2 separate regions of the Homo sapiens genome follow, and region 2 is linked to region 1. A link means that fine-mapping ties the variant in region 1 to the expression of a gene that starts in the linked region. Tissue or cell type: whole blood. Region 1 holds a variant in brackets; the other region holds the start of a gene. All regions are shown on one strand. Distances are between the middles of the regions.

What was found. PIP is the estimated chance that this variant, and not a neighbour inherited with it, causes the effect.
Region 2: FYB1 starts here. The variant in region 1 is fine-mapped to the expression of FYB1 in whole blood (TOPMed, PIP 0.92).

What each region holds. Positions count from the first base shown.
Region 1 is chr5:39,271,026-39,279,418 of GRCh38, forward strand. It overlaps a transcript of FYB1 not described here. Among named protein-coding and RNA genes, the nearest start is that of FYB1, 56 kb to the left of the region's middle. The variant C/T (reference allele first, on the strand shown) is at 3,874.
Region 2 is chr5:39,216,358-39,224,750 of GRCh38, forward strand. FYB1 (FYN binding protein 1) reads right to left here and starts at 3,206. Exons shown (of 19, transcript NM_001465.6): 1 at 3,086-3,206. RefSeq lists an enhancer at 4,282-4,783.

The sequences.
Region 1 (8,393 bases):
AAATAATTCTTTTTTTGTACTTTTTGGAGTTTTTCAAGTTTTCTATCTTGGGTATATAGCACTTGTGTAAAAACATAACTATAATCATTATTAAAAAGAGCAAAAGTATATGAAAATTTTAATAAGCAACTCCAATTATATTTAAATTCATATTACCAGTATTTAAATGAAGGAAACACTCATAAGCTTATCATAGAATGCCATTCATTTCCCTAAAAAAAAAGTACAGCTCAGTCTAGGTTCATGTATTAATTTTGGGGTAATATTTGTTAGCATCAGATGTTAAGGGCATAGTATTTGATCCCAAGTAGTCAGACTTTCCAATCATCCATGTACCTCTCTGAACACATTCTGATATACAGATTTGGCCCCTTTAATTGGAATATTTAGCCTTCTACTAAAGTAAGTTCAAGGGTAGAAGGTCATCTTTGTTTTCCATGGCAGAGGAAAGGCATGATTCCTTTTTTGGTGGTTGCAAATTTCCAGATCTTGTTGTAAGTATTACAGTGCTTATTTAGTGTAAGGTCACCAAATTTCTATACATGATGCTGACCAAACACTAATTAATCCTATATCCATACAAAATCCTTTTTCAAAAAAGATGTTACCTGTTATTTATTCCTTAAAATAAAAATGTTTTCAAAATTAAGACATAATTAGAAATTAATAGGACAGGCAAAAAGCCAGGGTAGGGGTTGAGTTCCAGAAGTAGAAACTGAGATTGTCCTGAAAACTTTACATATTATAAAGAGGGATGTGAGGCATGGTCAGAATCTGGTGGATGGTCAGGAATCTGAAATTGCACATTATCTTACACATAATACATGCTTAATGAATGAATAGAGGAGGAAGAGCAAAGCAAGAGCGAGGTATGGGACCCAGGCATACTTTTAAGTATAACACATTTTCCAGAATGCTTTGAAATGGAGACATTCTTTACTTTCACTAGAAAGCCTCTTATCTACTGTCTGTTAGAATAGAGATCATCAAAGTGCAGATACAGCTTAGGGTAAAGAGAATCACTCTAAAGCAGTGGTTCTCAACCTGGCTGCACATTAAAATCACCTGGGATGTTTTAAGTCTCAGCTCCCAGGCTTCACCCCAGGTTATTATATGAAAATCTGGGGTTGAAACTCAGGCATCAGTGTATTTCAAAGCTCACCATGTGATTCCAAGGTATGTGCATATTTGAGAGCCTTTGCCTTAAAAGAAGGAGCAGGTGACTCATACTAGCAAGATAGTGAACAGATCACCAGGCCAGCCTTGTGGGTAGAAATAATCGTGACACTCTGACACTGTTCTCTACTAAGTTAATCAACATGTTTACCCCATGTACTACATAAAAATTACTTAATCAGCCCGGGCGCGGTGGCTCATGCCTGTAATCCCTGCACTTTGGGAGGCCGAGGCAGGCGGATCATGGGGTCAGGAGATCGAAACCATCCTGGCTAACACGGTGAAATCCCGTCTCTACTAAAAAAAAAAAAATACAAAAAATTAGCTGGGCCTAGTGGCGGGCGCCTGTAGTCCCAGCTAGTCGGGAGGCTGAGGCAGGAGAATGGCATGAACCCGGGAGGCGGAGCTTGCAGTGAGCCGAGATTGCGCCACTGCACTCCAGTTTGGGGGACAGAACCAGACTCATCTCAAAAAAAAAAAAAAAAAAAAAAGAATTACTTAATCTTAGTCATGCTACAATTTCCTCTCTATACCAGTAAGTTGGACACAAATTACATGATAAACAGGAATCTAGCAATTATTCAGTTAACAGTGTAATTTATTGGGTAAGTCTCTGGTTAAGAGAACTTTGAATTTCAATTCATCCATCTAAATTCCATTTCAAGTTGTGCTTATTTCCAAATGCAGATTAAGGTAATTTTTAGTTGTTATTGAAATAAATTTAGTGGTCTTTCAAACACATATATTTAAGAAAAGTATTTTTGGCTAAGAAAAAAAAAGAAGTTCCCCACCCGGCCGGCTGCCCTGTCCAGGAGGGAGGTGGGGGGCGCCTCCGCCCGGCCAGCCACCCCGTCCGGGAGGTGGGGGGCGCTTCTGCCCGGCCGCCCCTTCTGGGAAGTGAGGAGCCCCTCTGCCCGGCCACCACCCCGTCTGGGAGGTGTACCCAACAGCTCATTGAGAACGGGCCATGATGACAATGGCGGTTTTGTGGAATAGAAAAGGGGAAAAGGTGGGGAAAAGATTGAGAAATCGGATGGTTGCTGTGTCTGTGTAGAAAGAAGTGGACATGGGAGACTTTTCATTTTGTTCTGTACTAAGAAAAATTCTTCTGCCTTGGAAAAAAAAAGAAAAGTTGAGTTGAAACTCCCAACTATAACTTGTAGTCCACAAGTATATTTTCATATTTAGTTTTTAAGGCATAATCATGTTATTTGAAAAATATATGTCAAACATCACATATGTGAGTATATCTCCTGTGAAGCCAGAGCTCAGTACATAAGTTCCTGAGCAGGAAGATGAAACAGGAAATGCAACAAAGATGACAGAGAGCATAGTGATACCATCTGAAAATGATAAACCTATGTTTTCGCAGTATGGGCACTGCAATTAGTCCTGCTAATAGAAGGGAGAAGTAGCTTACAGAATGCAAAATAAGTTATAATTCTTTAAATACTGGGGCATGCACTCTCTTTTCATACATTTTTATTTTAGAAAACAGTTTTTGTTCAGTCAATGGTGCAATGAATGAGTCTGCCCCTTCAGTACTCACTGAAGGTGGTGGCTAGGTGGAGACTGTGAGGTCTAGAAGAATGGGGTGGCTAGGGAAAACCAACTTCATTTTTTAAACTCATCTTGCAAGTAGATAAAGGAAAGAACACTAATAAAATTTGAGTAATATTAATGATCATTACTGAGAAGCATCGTCAGTGTTTTATCTATTATGCTTTTTTTTTTTCTTTTTGAGACAGAGTCTTGCTCTGTCCCCCAGGCTAGAGTACAGTGGCACGATCTCAGCTCACTGCAACCTCCGCCTCCCAGGTTCAAGCAATTCTCCTGCCTCAGCCTCCCAAGTAACTGAGATTACAGGCATGTGCCACCACACCTGGCTAATTTTTGTATTTTCAGTAGAGATGGGGTTTCACCATCTTGCCCAGGCTGGTCTTGAACTCCTTACCTTATGATCCACCCACCTTGGCCTCCCAAAGTGCTGGGATTACAGGTATTAGGTTTTAAAAGAAGCATGGTTAAAACTGTTAGCATAGAAGGTTAGAAATAGTTATAAACTCCGATACATTTTCTTTTTTATAACCCGAATGTCTAACATTTTATACAAGAAACAAGTAGCCATCTACTCTACGTGCCCAACATTAATGTGCCTGGCTAAGACCCCTGAGATAGAACAGAGGGATGTCGAATCTCACCTTTTCCAGGAAGGCTTCTCTGCTGCTAGCTCACTGATCTCCTGTTTTTTTCTGGAAGCCTGCAGGCCACACTACAAAATTAAGCTCTTTTAATATGTTTGCCCTTTATGGTTCTCTAATTGTATTGGGTGTATTAGGTTTGGCTCCTCAACTAGATTGGAAACTGCTCCAATGAGAATTAATTTTCATACTTCCTTTTCTCACTCTAAGGTCCTAGGTCAGCTTTTTTTAAAACACTTTTTCTTTTTTTTTTGCCTCGTGAGTTCCTCAGATGAAAGCAATGTTTGTTTTGTACACTGATTCTGCATCTACAACCTTCCTTGAAGCCCATCATTTATGGGAAGCTATAAGAGAACCTTTGGCTAAAATATCGCCAAATACTAAGAGATAGTCACTACAGAGCTGCTCTTTGATCATGAAATTAAAGGAAACTTACAAGCAGATTCATAAAAATTCAAGGAAATTCAGTCTCCCTGTTTGGCTAGATATGAAATAG[C/T]AAATGGGAAGTAGCAGGAAAAAGCAGAATAAGAACAGGCATGCTTAAGAAGGCTGTGCAGGAGGAAGTGGGGACTTCCTTGATTTGGGTTATTTCTCTTTCACTTTTTGTTTTAAAAACACAGTGAACTTTTTCACTCTTGTACTTTCTACTTTTAATGAAAGAGGGCCTTAACTCTTCAGAACATCAGTGTTCTGGAAGAAATAGCTTATTAATCAACTTACTTTTGATTAAAAAGAGAGTTTCCACCACATTTTAATGGAACGAGTAGATTGTATTGAAACTCAAGAAAAGAAGGGAGCATTTGTCTTTACAATTTAAACCCAATCCCAGGTGAATATTTACTACAGTAAAAACAATCTGCTAAAATAGGACAATGAAAAAATTAATCTAGACTTCACTTAAGGAGTTTTTATCAAACCAGTTAACCTGGAGAGCAAAGAGACAACAAAGCTTATAGAAGAATTCTAGGTTATATATTACCTTGCTTTGTTTTTTGTAATTTTGTCCATTATTTGTATCACACCCTCTCTTTGGGTCTTTGGGGATGCATGAACTCCATGGGTCTATTGGGTCCTGCTGTTTTCTTCTCGTGATTTCTCACATCATTTGTCCTTGCATTTGTTTCACAGAAGCAGAATTCTAAGTCATAATCCCTTTGCTTCAGTGAGTCTCCAAGACAAGATTTAACTGACACACACTCTCATGGGGTTGCTTATTGCTTTTGCCATTTGTTTAATGATAATTTGATCTTTAATGAATAAAATAAAGAAAAGGTCCCACATCAAAAGGGATCTATTTCTCATTTTTTCTCCTTCCTTCCTTCCTTCCTTTTTTCTTTCCTACTTTTTTTTAATTATACTTTAAATTTTACGGTATATGTGCACAATGTGCAGGTTTGTTACATATGTATACATGTGCCATGTTGGTGTGCTGCACCCAGTAACTCGTCATTTACATTAGGTATATCTCCTAATGCTATCCCTGCCCCCTACCCCCACCCCACGACATGCCCCGGTGTGTGATGTTACCCTTCCTGTGACCATGTGTTCTCATTGTTCAATTCCCACCTATGAGTGAGAACATGCGGTGTTTGCTTTTTTGTCCTTGTGATAGCTTGCTGAGAATGATGGTTTCCAGCTTCATTCGTGTCTCTACAAATGAAATGAACTCATCATTTTTTATGGCTGCATAGTATTCCATGGTATATATGTGCCACATTTTCTTAATCCAGTCTATCATTGATGGACATTTGGGTTGGTTCCAAGTCTTTGCTATTGTGAATAGTGCCACAATAAACATATGTGTGCATGTGTCTTTATAGCAGCATGATTTATAATCCTTTGGGTATATACCCAGTAATGGGATGGCTGGGTCAAATGGTATTTCTAGTTCTAGATCCCTGAGGAATCGCCACACTGTCTTCCAGAGTGGTTGAACTAGTTTACAGTCCCACCAACAGTGTAAAAGTGTTCCTATTTCTCCACATCCTCTCCAGCACCTGTTGTTTCCTGACTTTTTAATGATCACCATTTGAACTGGTGTGAGATGGTATCTCATTGTGGTTTTGATTTGCATTTCTCTGATGGCCAGTGATGATGAGCATTTTTTCATGTGTCTGTTGGCTGCATAAATGTCTTCTTTTGAGAAGTGTCTGTCCATATCCTTTGCCCACTTTTTGATGGGGTTGTTTTTTTCTTGTAAATTTGTTTGAGTTCTTTGTAGATTCTGGATATTAGCCCTTTGTCAGATGAGTAGATTGCAAAAATGTTCTCCCATTCTGTAGGTTGCCTGTTCACTCTGATGGCAGTTTCTTTTGCTGTGCAGAAGCTCTTTAGTTTAATTAGATCCCATTTGTCAATTCTGGCTTTTGTTACCATTGCTTTTGGTGTTTTAGACATGAAGTCCTTGCCCATGCCTATGTCCTGAATGGTATTGCCTAGGTTTTCTTCTAGGGCTTTTATGGTTTTAGGTCTAACACTTAAGTCTTTAATCCATCTTGAATTAATTTTTGTATAAGGTGTAAGGAAGGGATCCAGATTTAGCTTTGTACATATGGCTAGCCAGTTTTCCCAACACCATTTATTAAATAGGGAATCCTTTCACCATTTCTTGTTTTTGTCAGGTTTGTCAAAGATCAGATAGTTGTTTATATGTGGCATTATTTCTGAGGGCTTTGTTCTGTTCTATTGGTCTATATCTCTGTTTTGGTACCAGTACCATGCTGTTTTGGTGACTGTAGCCTTGTAGTATAGTTTGAAGTCAGGTAGCGTGATGCCTCCAGCTTTGTTCTTTTGGTTTAGGATTGACTTGGCAATGCGGGCTCTTTTTTGGTTCCATATGAACTTTAAAGTAGTTTTTTCCAGTTCTGTGAAGAAAGTCATTGGTAGCTGGATGGGGATGGCATTGAATATAAATTACCTTGGGCAGTATGGCCATTTTCACGATACTGATGCTTCCTACCCATGAGCATGGAATGTTCTTCCATTTGTTTGTGTCCTCTTTTATTTCATTGAGCAGTGGTTTGCAGTTCTCCTTGAAGAGGTCCTTCATATCCTTGTAAGTTGGATTCCTAGGTATTTTATTCTCTTTGAAGCAATTGTGAATGGGAGTTCACTCATGATTTGGCTCTCTGTTTGTCTGTTATTGGTGTATAAGAATGCTTGTGATTTTTGCACGTTGATTTTGTATCCTGAGATTTTGCTGAAGTTGCTTATCAGCTTAAGGAGATTTTGGGTTAAGATGATGGGGTTTTCTAGATATACAATCATGTCGTCTGCAAACAGGGACAATTTGACTTCCTCTTTTCCTAATTGAATACCCTTTATTTCTTTCTCCTGCCTGATTGCTCTGGCCAGAACTTCCAACACTATGTTGAATAGGAATGGTGAGAGAGGGCATCCCTGTCTTGTGCCAGTTTTCAAAGGGAATGCTTCCAGTTTTTGCCCATTCAGTATGATATTGACTGTGGGTTTGTCATAGATAGCTCTTATTATTTTTAGATACATCCCATCAATACCTAATTTATTGAGAGTTTTTTAGCATGAAGGGCTGTTGAATTTTGTCAAAGGCCTTCTCTGCATCTACTGAGATAATCATGTGGTTTTTGCCATTGATTCTGTTTATATGCTGGATTACGTTTATTGATTTGCATATCTTGAACCAGCCTTGCATCCCAGGGATGAAGCCCACTTGATCATGGTGGATAAGCTTTTTGATATGTTGCTGGATTCGGTTTGCCAGTATTTTATTGAGGATTTTTGCATCGATGTTCATCAGGGATATTGGTCTAAAATTCTCTTTTTTTTGTTGTGTCTCTGCCAGGCTTTGGTATCAGGATGATGTTGGTCTCATAAAATGATTTAGGGAGGATTCCCTCTCTTTCTATTGATTGGAATAGTTTCAGAAGGAATGGTACCAGTTCCTCCTTGTACCTCTGGTAGAATTTGGCTGTGAGTCCTTCTGGTCCTGGACTTTTTTTGGTTGGTAGGCTATTAATTACTGCCTCAATTTCGGAGCCTGTTATTGGTCTATTCAGGGATTCAACTTCTTCCTGGTTTAGTCTTGGGAGAGTGTATGTGTCCAAGAATTTACCCATTTCTTCTAGATTTTCTAGTTTATTTGCATAGAGGTGTTTATAGTATTCTCTGATGGTAGTTTGTATTTCTGTGGAATTGGTGGTGATATCCCCTTTGTCATTTTTTATTGCGTCTATTTGATTCTTCTCTCTTTTCTTCTTTATTAGTCTTGCTAGTGGTCTATCAATTTTGTTGATCTTTTCAAAAAACCAGCTCCTGGATTCATTGATTTTTTGAAGGGTTTTTTGTGTCGCTATTTCCTGCAGTTCTGCTCTGATCTTAGTTATTTCATGCCTTCTGCTAGCTTTTGAATGTGTTTGCTCTTGCTTCTCTAGTTCTTTTAATTGTGATGTTAGGGTGTCAATTTTAGATCTTTCCTGCATTCTCTTGTGGGCATTTAGTGCTGTAAATTTCCTTCTACACGCTGCTTTGAATGTGTCCCAGAGCTTCTTGTGTGTTGTGTATTTGTTCTCGTTGGTTTCAAAGAACATCTTTATTTCTGCCTTCATTTCATTATTTACCCAGTAGTCATTCAGGAGCAGGTTGTTCAGTTTCTATGCAGTTGAGCAGTTTTGAGTAAGTTTCTTAATCCTGAGTTCTAGATTGATTGCACTATGGTCTGAGAGACAGTTTGTTATAATTTCCGTTCTTTTACATTTGCTGAGGAGTGCTTTACTTCCAACTATGTGGTCAATTTTGGAATAGGTGTGGTGTGGTGCTGAAAAGAATGTATATTCTGTTGATTTGGGGTGGAGAGTCTGTAGATGTCTATTAGGACTGCTTGGTGCAGAGCTGAGTTCAATTCCTGGATATCCTTGTTAACTTTCTGTCTTGTTGATCTCTCTAATGTTGACAGTGGGGTATTAAAGTCTCCCATTATTATTGTGTGGGAGTCTAAGTCTCCTTGTAGGTCTCTAAGGACTTGCTTTATGAATCTGGGTG
Region 2 (8,393 bases), 55 kb before region 1:
CTACCCGCAGCTCCCTCCTTTGTTCACTCTTTTGTTTATTTGTTTTTAAATTTTATTTTAAGTTCTTTCTGGGATACATGTGCGGGATGTGCAGGTTTGTTACACAGGTAAATGCATGCCATGGTGGCTTACTGCACCTCTCAACCCATCACCTAGGTATCAGGCCCCACATGCATTAGCTATTTATCATGATGCTCTCTCTCCCCCTGCCCTGCAACAGGCCCCAGTGTGTGTCGTTCCCCTCCCTGTGTTTGTGCTGGATTTCTATAAATATCCAACAGTCTATGTGGATGAAGTTTAGGAAGAAGGGAAGAAAGACTGTTTCATGATTATTTTTTGCTGCACCACCATTTGTTGCCATATTAGAGGTGACATCCCAGCTGGGATTATCCCTGGCTTGGAAAGACTGAGTTAGGCATTGGTCACAGGCAGCATGTGAATTTGGTGGCATTTCACCTGCACTTAGAAGCAAAGTCATCCACTGCTCTGACCAACTCACAAGGCGCAGGCTGCAGCAACGTGATTAACAAGGTTATGTATTGAATTTATATAGCTAAATGATTTTCCTGGTTTCTTATCTGTTTAGAGAGGCTGATTAGCAGAGGTAGAAAAACAAGACAACCACTGAGCTTTCCAAATTTATCAGAGAAACCCCAGACCAGCTTCTGATGGGGAAATATTCCTTGACTTCCAGAGCTTCCCACTGGATTTTCATTCCTGCCCAAAGACATTCTTGGTTTATTCCTAGTGACCAATAGAGAGCATTCCAACAATCACTTCTTATCAGTCAGCAACTATATAATAAACACCTGGGACATGCTTGGCCCTGGGCTTTGGTAAAAAGAAAGGAGACAAATGGGCCTTAAAGGTAGAACAATTTCAATTAGAAGCCTGTACAAGGTTTAGAACACAACGTTTGAGAAAGGAAAAAATCCTTAAACATTAGCGAACCAAGGTCCTTCATTTTACAAAAAAGAAACTGCGTAAGGGATCTGTCCAGGTTCACACAGTTGGGCTAAAATCTGGGTCTCTCCCTTGCTCATCCTCTGAGCTTTCCACTGCGCTATGCTGTCTGACCTGTGGGGTGCCAGCTTCTGCAGCAGCTTGCTCTTAAAAAACAGTCACAACAAGAACAGAGGGCAACCCCGATTGCCTTCTGGGCCAGGTGCTGTGCTAGGAGCTTTTCAGGGATCACCTCAAAACAGGTCAATGGAGACGTTACTGTTATCCCCATTTGACAGATAAAGAAACTGAGTCATGGAACCATTTAGGAACTCACCCAAGGCCCACAGCTGGTGCGTGGCAGAGACCACCTTCAAGCTCAGGATCTTGATTCTGGAGTCACAGTCTTAACCGCAACCCCTGGAACCACAGCCCAAACCCGCCAGCGAGCCACGGTTCACTCTCTTCACTTTCTTGTTTTTAGAAATGTTCCTGTAGAGCAGCCTCTAGTAACACCTCAGACAAATGAAATATCATTTCTACATCCCTGATCTCTCTCTCTTGTTAACGTATTGTGTAAATGGTGGAAAATGTGGTTTTTAAAGCACATTGAGGCTGGTAAAAGCTTCAAAGCCACCGCCTGCACTTACTCTTTAGACCACTAGATGTCAGTGTGATTGCTCTATGAAGCAGCCGTAACTTGGCAAGGTGCAGCATTGCACCAGAAATCAGCTGCTGCGAGCTTCCAAGCCTCTGGACTCCAGCAGAAGCTGGGGGGAATTTGAAGCCCAATGGTAGTAAACAAATAATGGACATGACAGTCAGGCAGTGTGGATTTCAACCTTTACAATAATTTCTCAAGGGAAATGGAAACCTTTTTAGCCTTTCCTTTTTGAAACGGATGGTCAACTTTTCCACGGGGTGCCTTAAGTGCACCATAACGCCTTTGATATTCAGGATCGCCTTTAATGGTACATCATAAAACATGTGGTTTTATTGGAAAGAGCACCCTTATCCTCCTCCCCCTCACCTATCACTTATGATTAATTTCTTAAGGTATCGGACTATTTGAAGTGTGTGTATCTCACATTGCATGGGGACGTTTTACTCTACCTAAAACCTCCGGTGGCATTCCCATAGCATGGGCAGAAAATCACAGCCACAACTTCACCCTTCCGGTGATAAGCCCATCTGTTTCCCACGCAGAATTATTTGTATTTAATGAAAAAATATTTAAAATGGTGAATATTAATTATTATTTTACATTAGTACTCAAAAAGTGTATATAGTTTTATCCCCTCAACAACTCCATGAGATGAGTTCTATTATTATCCCCATGTTTAGATGAGAAAACTGAGACACAGAGAGGTTAAGTGGCTCTCCCAAAGTCACACAGCTAATAGAAGGCAGAGTCAGAGGCCCATTTCTATTAATTACTTCCCTGCAAATCAAGTTAAATGGGGGGAAAAGACCTTGTGAATTTTTCAGAAGAATCAGCAATGTATACAAGACAGCCAAAGGCTCCGAGGAAAATTTGGAGTTGCTGGTTGCTTTGAAAGGCCTCCTTGGCTGATCTGCAGCTGTTTGTCATCATTTATCCAGTTTGCCAGGATTCCTTCTGAGAAGGCATAATTCATGGCAGTATAGTCCCTTTCTTTAGTCTATGTAGAAATCTCATGTGAATCCTCACCTCCTGCCAGGTTTGGAGGAAATTGAAAGTTACTCTTTCTCATCAAAAGGATGGACACATATTTGTTAGGAACCAGGATGAAATAAACCATCTGTGCCCAGCTCTGTTGGCAATAAAACCTTGTTTCTGGTTTCACTGCAAGACGTTATTTAACGCTAGTGGCACCAGAGGTTCCAACAAGAACACATGAGAGGCCTTATCCAGTTACGAAAGAGCAAGTGACAGACACGTTCCCGGCCACATTTTTATCTGCTTATCATCCTTTTGGCTACCATGAGGCTGAGTTTTAGTGTCTCCTGTTCATCTCTTTTGCTATTTTCCAACAGAACATGCGTTTCCTTCAGTTATTCAGCTAGCACAGTCTGTGCTGCCAGAATTTGGAAGTGGTGCTTTTTTCCTGCTATAAAAAATTACACATTTATTTGAAAGAAGAAACCTAGGCATAGCTGTTACCTGACTCCTGCAGAAGAAGGCGGAAGGATGGCCTCCTTTAGTGGATCTTCCTGGGCCAGGGTCTGGGCCCTACTCACTTCTAGCTGTCGCATCTGCTCTGCATGTGGAACTCAAGAACTGCGGAGCTTTCTGATGCCTGGCAGGGTTTTGTCCCGGTCAGTGGTTGAGTGAGCCACACCTCCCTCCCCTGACCAGGCAAACTTAGACAAGAAAAGTTCTATTATGCCCTCAGGATATTGAGTAATAAGGAGGAGAAAGGGGAACTTAAAAGTGTCTGTTCAGCCTGGATACTTCTGCTAACATTCCCACCAAGCATGTGATATTTAAAAGGGTAAAACCAAAACAAGATTCTCCTGCCTGCCACCATGTTTATTCAAGAGGAAGAAGCTGTAAGTTCTTTGGACCCATAATCTTTCCACACACCCAGGAGTGTCACCTGCAATGGGGGCCAAAGGGGGATGCTTACAATTAGAAAGGTCCACTGGAGCATGTGGAATATTTGGAAGCTAATTGCACCTGAGGTCAGGAGGTAAAGTGGTGTGCTTGACCATATCAACTGAAGAGTGGTCACTCATGTGTGGAAAGCCCACTAGACTCACTCTGTCGGCTCTCTGTTAGACTATTCTTGAGGCTGGAAGAAATGGAGTATTTAGATGATAATCCATGTGAAAAGACCACCAGTGGGGCTGAGTGTAGTGGGTCATGCCTGTAATCCCGGTACTTTGGAAGGCTGAGGCAGGAGGATTGCTTGAGACCAGGAGTTCAAGACCAGTCTTGACAACATGGTGAGACCCTGTCTCTACAAAAATAAAAAAAAAATTAGCCAAGTGTGATGGTGCATGCCTGTAGCCCCAGACATTTGGGAAGCTGAGGTGGGAGGATTTCTTGAGCACAGGAGTTCAAGGCTTCAGTGAGCTATGATTGCACCACCATTGCACTCCAGCCTGGGTAACAGAGCAAGATCCTGTCTGAAGGAAAAAAAAAAAAGAAGAAAGAAAGAAAGAAAAATAAAGAGAAGGAAAGAAAGAAAGAAACTCAAAAAAGAAAAGAGAAAAAAAGAAAAGAAAAGACAAGAAAAGAAAAGAAACCCCCCAAAACAGAGGCTACCATTGGGACTAAATGAGATTTTAACAAATTGTGATTGTGAAATTAACCTCCCCCACCTTCCTTCTACTCATTCATTCATAAACATCAAACACTTACTGTGTGGGTCAAGCACTGGCCAAGACTAGAAAGATGGAGAAGACAAGGATTTTCCACTCAGTGGCTTATAATCTTACAGACGTTATGCCAGAGATGGTCACTTTCCTCCCCGTATGATTTTCCCTTCTTATAGAGTAGTAGGGTCAGCAAACTATGGCCCGCATGCCAAATCTGGCCTGTGGAATGTTTTGTACAGACCTCAGGCTAAGAATTTACATTTTTTAAGAATTGTAAGAAAAGGGAGAAGAAGCAAAAGAAGACAATGATGGTAACAATGATGATGACAACAATGATGATGACATGGCTGAGACCGTATATGGCCTGAAATATTTACTATCTAGTCCTCTGCAGAAAAAGTTTGCCAAAAGTTTAGGATGCTTATTCTATCCTAAGAGATCTCTGGCTTTTTACCTGGCCCACAGCTACACAGGATAAGGCATTTTCTAGTCCCTCTTGACATTAGATTTGGCCATGTGGTTAAGTTTTAGTCAATGGGATCTATGCAGAAGGGATCTATGTAGCTTCTTGGTGTGTCCTAAAAGAGGGCCCCATCATGCTTTCCCCTCCCAGCTGGCTGGGATGCTGTGGGGGCCTGAGCTCTTCTGATCCAGTGATGACTAAGGTAATACTCTAGGCATGACAGAGCCAGGAGATAGAAGGACCTGGCCCCCAACACAGGAGACAACCCCATCTTCACTGGATTTTGCTAGATGGTTATAAAGAAGGGAACAGGAGGACAGACATTTAACTTTTAAAAATCAGTGTTATGTTGTGTCTCTTTTGCTGCAACCAAACATGTATTATAACCACTATAGAGATAGACACTGTATAACTAACCATGACACACTGTGATGAGTATTAAGCTCAAAGTATGAATAAAGGCATCTGGAAATACCCAGGAATATGTAATTCCTTCTGCATGGGGGCAGAAGAGTTGAGGAAGACTTTACCTAACATGGGACAGTTGATCTTGGGCCATGAAGGAAGCCTAACTGGAATTTGGGATTACTTGTTTTTCTTCTCCTCTCTGCCAACCTCTCTCAGATGGCCAAAACAAAATAAAATAATCCACTGGGTGAGGTGGCTCACGCCTATAATCCCAGCACTTTGGGAGGCCTAGGAGGGTAGGTCACCTGAGGTCAGGAGTTCGAGACTAGCTTGGCCAGCATGGTGAAACCCTGTTTCTACTAAAAAATCCAAAAATTAGCTGGGCGTGGTGGTGGTGCATACCTGTAATTCCAGCTACTCAGGAGGCTGAGGCAGGAGAATTGCTGGAACAAAGGAGGCGGAGGTTGCAGTGAGCTGAGATTGCACCATTGCACTCCAGCCCGGGCCAACAAGAGCAAGACTCTGTCTCAAAAATAAAATAAAATAAAATAAAGTAAAATAAAATAAAATAAAATAAAATGAAATAATCCTCCAAAAGCAAGCAACACGCCCTGTCTTCATGGAATGTACTGCCCCCTCTCCTTTTTCACCTGGCTAACTCCTGCTTATGCTCCAAAACCCAGTGTAGATATGATCTCCTTTTGAACTTTGTCCCACAAGACTGGGTAAGGCCTTCTGAGCTCTGGCGTCTTGTACTCTCTCTTAGTTGTTGGAGATATGTCTGTGTTTCTCACTAGATCATGAGTTCCTTAAGGGTTGGCGGTAACTGTGGCTTATTTGTCCTGGATTTCCAGCTTGTAGTACATTGCCAGGCATACAGAAGGCACTTTATAAACATTAATTAATGTATTAGAGGCCAAGGGCAGCTTCCTGGTTTGTGGGACTCTTGCTCTTTTTTAATGCATTTGTCCCACTAAAGGGAAGGTGAGCCCAGCAATTTATATCTCTCAGCCTCTGTGTCCTAAAAGTATATACATTTTTAAAAGTTTGCTTTCCAAAAAGGCAGAAAAGAAATGTACACATTTAGAAAGTTTTAGTTTAAAAAACTGAAAGTTTCATTTGTTATGAATGGTCTCTATGCTTAGTAGTGTCTGAAAGGTTTGAAGATTTAATAAAAACAACTAAAATGCTATGAGGTGAGTTTAGTAACATGATGGTATGTTTCCGAAATAAGCGGAAGTATAGATACTTGCTCAAATTTATCTTATTTTGAGCTTTTCTTATTATTACATAATAATAAACACCCATTTTTCTATTTTTATAAAATCTTTGCTCACAAAGGAAAATTTGTGCAGTAATATTATTTGATTACAACAAGATGATGATGCTGATAATTACATTTGATTCTCCCCTTGTCACTCTGTGTTATGTGTCTTATAATCAATAAAAGAGGGAGAGGAACAACAAACACTGAGGCCTGTTGGGGGAGGGCAATGGAGGGGAGAGCATCAGGAAAAATAGCTAATGCATGCCAGGCTTAATACCCAGGTGATGGGTTGATAAGTACAGCAAACCACCATGGCACACGTTAACCTATGTAACACACCTGCACATCCTGCACATGTACCCTGGAACTTAAAATAAAATAAAATAAAATTTAAAAATAAAAAATAAAAAAATAAAAGCAAAAGCATTGCTTTTCATGCAAACCTATTTTACTACATGCTTTGGCTACAGGCAACCAATTTTCTGAACTGGAGAATTAATGTAAGACTTTTAAGACACCGTATAGTAGTAGTATTTTCCCCTATCATTTAGAGGAAAATATAAAAATATGAGGAGCATATTTTCCTTTATGTATAGTCCTCCTTGAGATGGTGTTGACAGAAGGTGAAGTTGAAAAGAATTACTTGCATTATGTTTCTAAAGGAAACCAGTAATGTAATATTAAGTTATTATTTGAATATGAAGTTTTCATTATTTTTGTGGCTATTCACTAAAGGCCTTCATAAATTACAGGGAAACCTGAGCAATTAAATTTAAAAAAATCATTCAAATGCTTCTTAAATAAAGTTTTTGGTCTTAACATCTGCTACAGAATCAAGCTAACACCTCAGTGCTTCTGGATATTTATTAAATGTTTAGGGCTTCCATTCCCCCATGCAAGAGTAATTCTAAGCAAATGATGAATGTCTCAATGAGTAGCTCATTCTTTGTGGACGTAAAAACTAGGTTTCCACTTCTCTATCTGGTGCAGCTCTGTTGTGCAATACAAGGAGATAAAACCCTAGGTAAGAGAATTAGAGTGGGGGTGGGTGTAGTAGAGATGGAGAAGGTCAGCTTATTCTCAACTCACTACTCCCAGTATCAAATATCCATTTCAGATATAAGAATTTCTGTCTTTATACCCCAGCCCAAATTTTCTACTGTCCCTATCTCATCCCACACTCCCCTCTTCTCCAGGTGGAGAAACCCTATCCTGTGCTGTCTGCTCAGTATAATGATGACTTTGAGGTGTCAGCCTGTTCATGCCTATCACTTGTCAATGTGCTTGCTTCTCTGTCCTCTAAATTAAATACTGTACTTATTGTTGTACTTACTAGCAATTATATTTTTCCACAATTAAAAAAATGATGAAGTTAATATTCTCAAAGGAGTAAATAACACGAAACCGATGGCCATTCCAGCCATCTTTCAAGGAAAGGTGATCTGGTTCTGGTGGCCAAGCCAGCTCTGCTGTGCCAGATAAAAGCCTCCAGTGACTTACTCAGAAAACAAATCATGAATGTGTTTGAAAGTGAAATGATTTGGCCTCCAGTCAGCCTTTAGCACAGTCCTGACGGTTTCCCTTACTACAGGGATTAAGCGTCCTGTGAAAACAGATGGGGGAGGGCTGCCACCTTCTGCTTGCTCACCCAGGGAGTGGCCTCCCAAGCTTCGCCACTGCTCCAGACAGCAGCAGATGAAGCTCTGAGGAGTCCACGCCTTTCTGGAAGCTTGTTGTTGCCCTGCCAACATATATTGACTTGTCAAGAGCTCTGTCTTTAAGCCAATCACATCCTGATCACAGTTCATTAAAGGTGTGTATTCCTCTAGAGAGCTCATTGTCTGTTGTCAGAAATCACTCAGTGCCCAAACACATTAGGATGAGAATGGACTGTGTAGGAGAGAAGAAAAGAAATGGGTTCTGCTTATTTTCTTTGACTTTAACAGCTACTTCCCCTTACTCAACTCAACACTCATGTACACATATCAGAGAAGCATTACGATCTGCAAG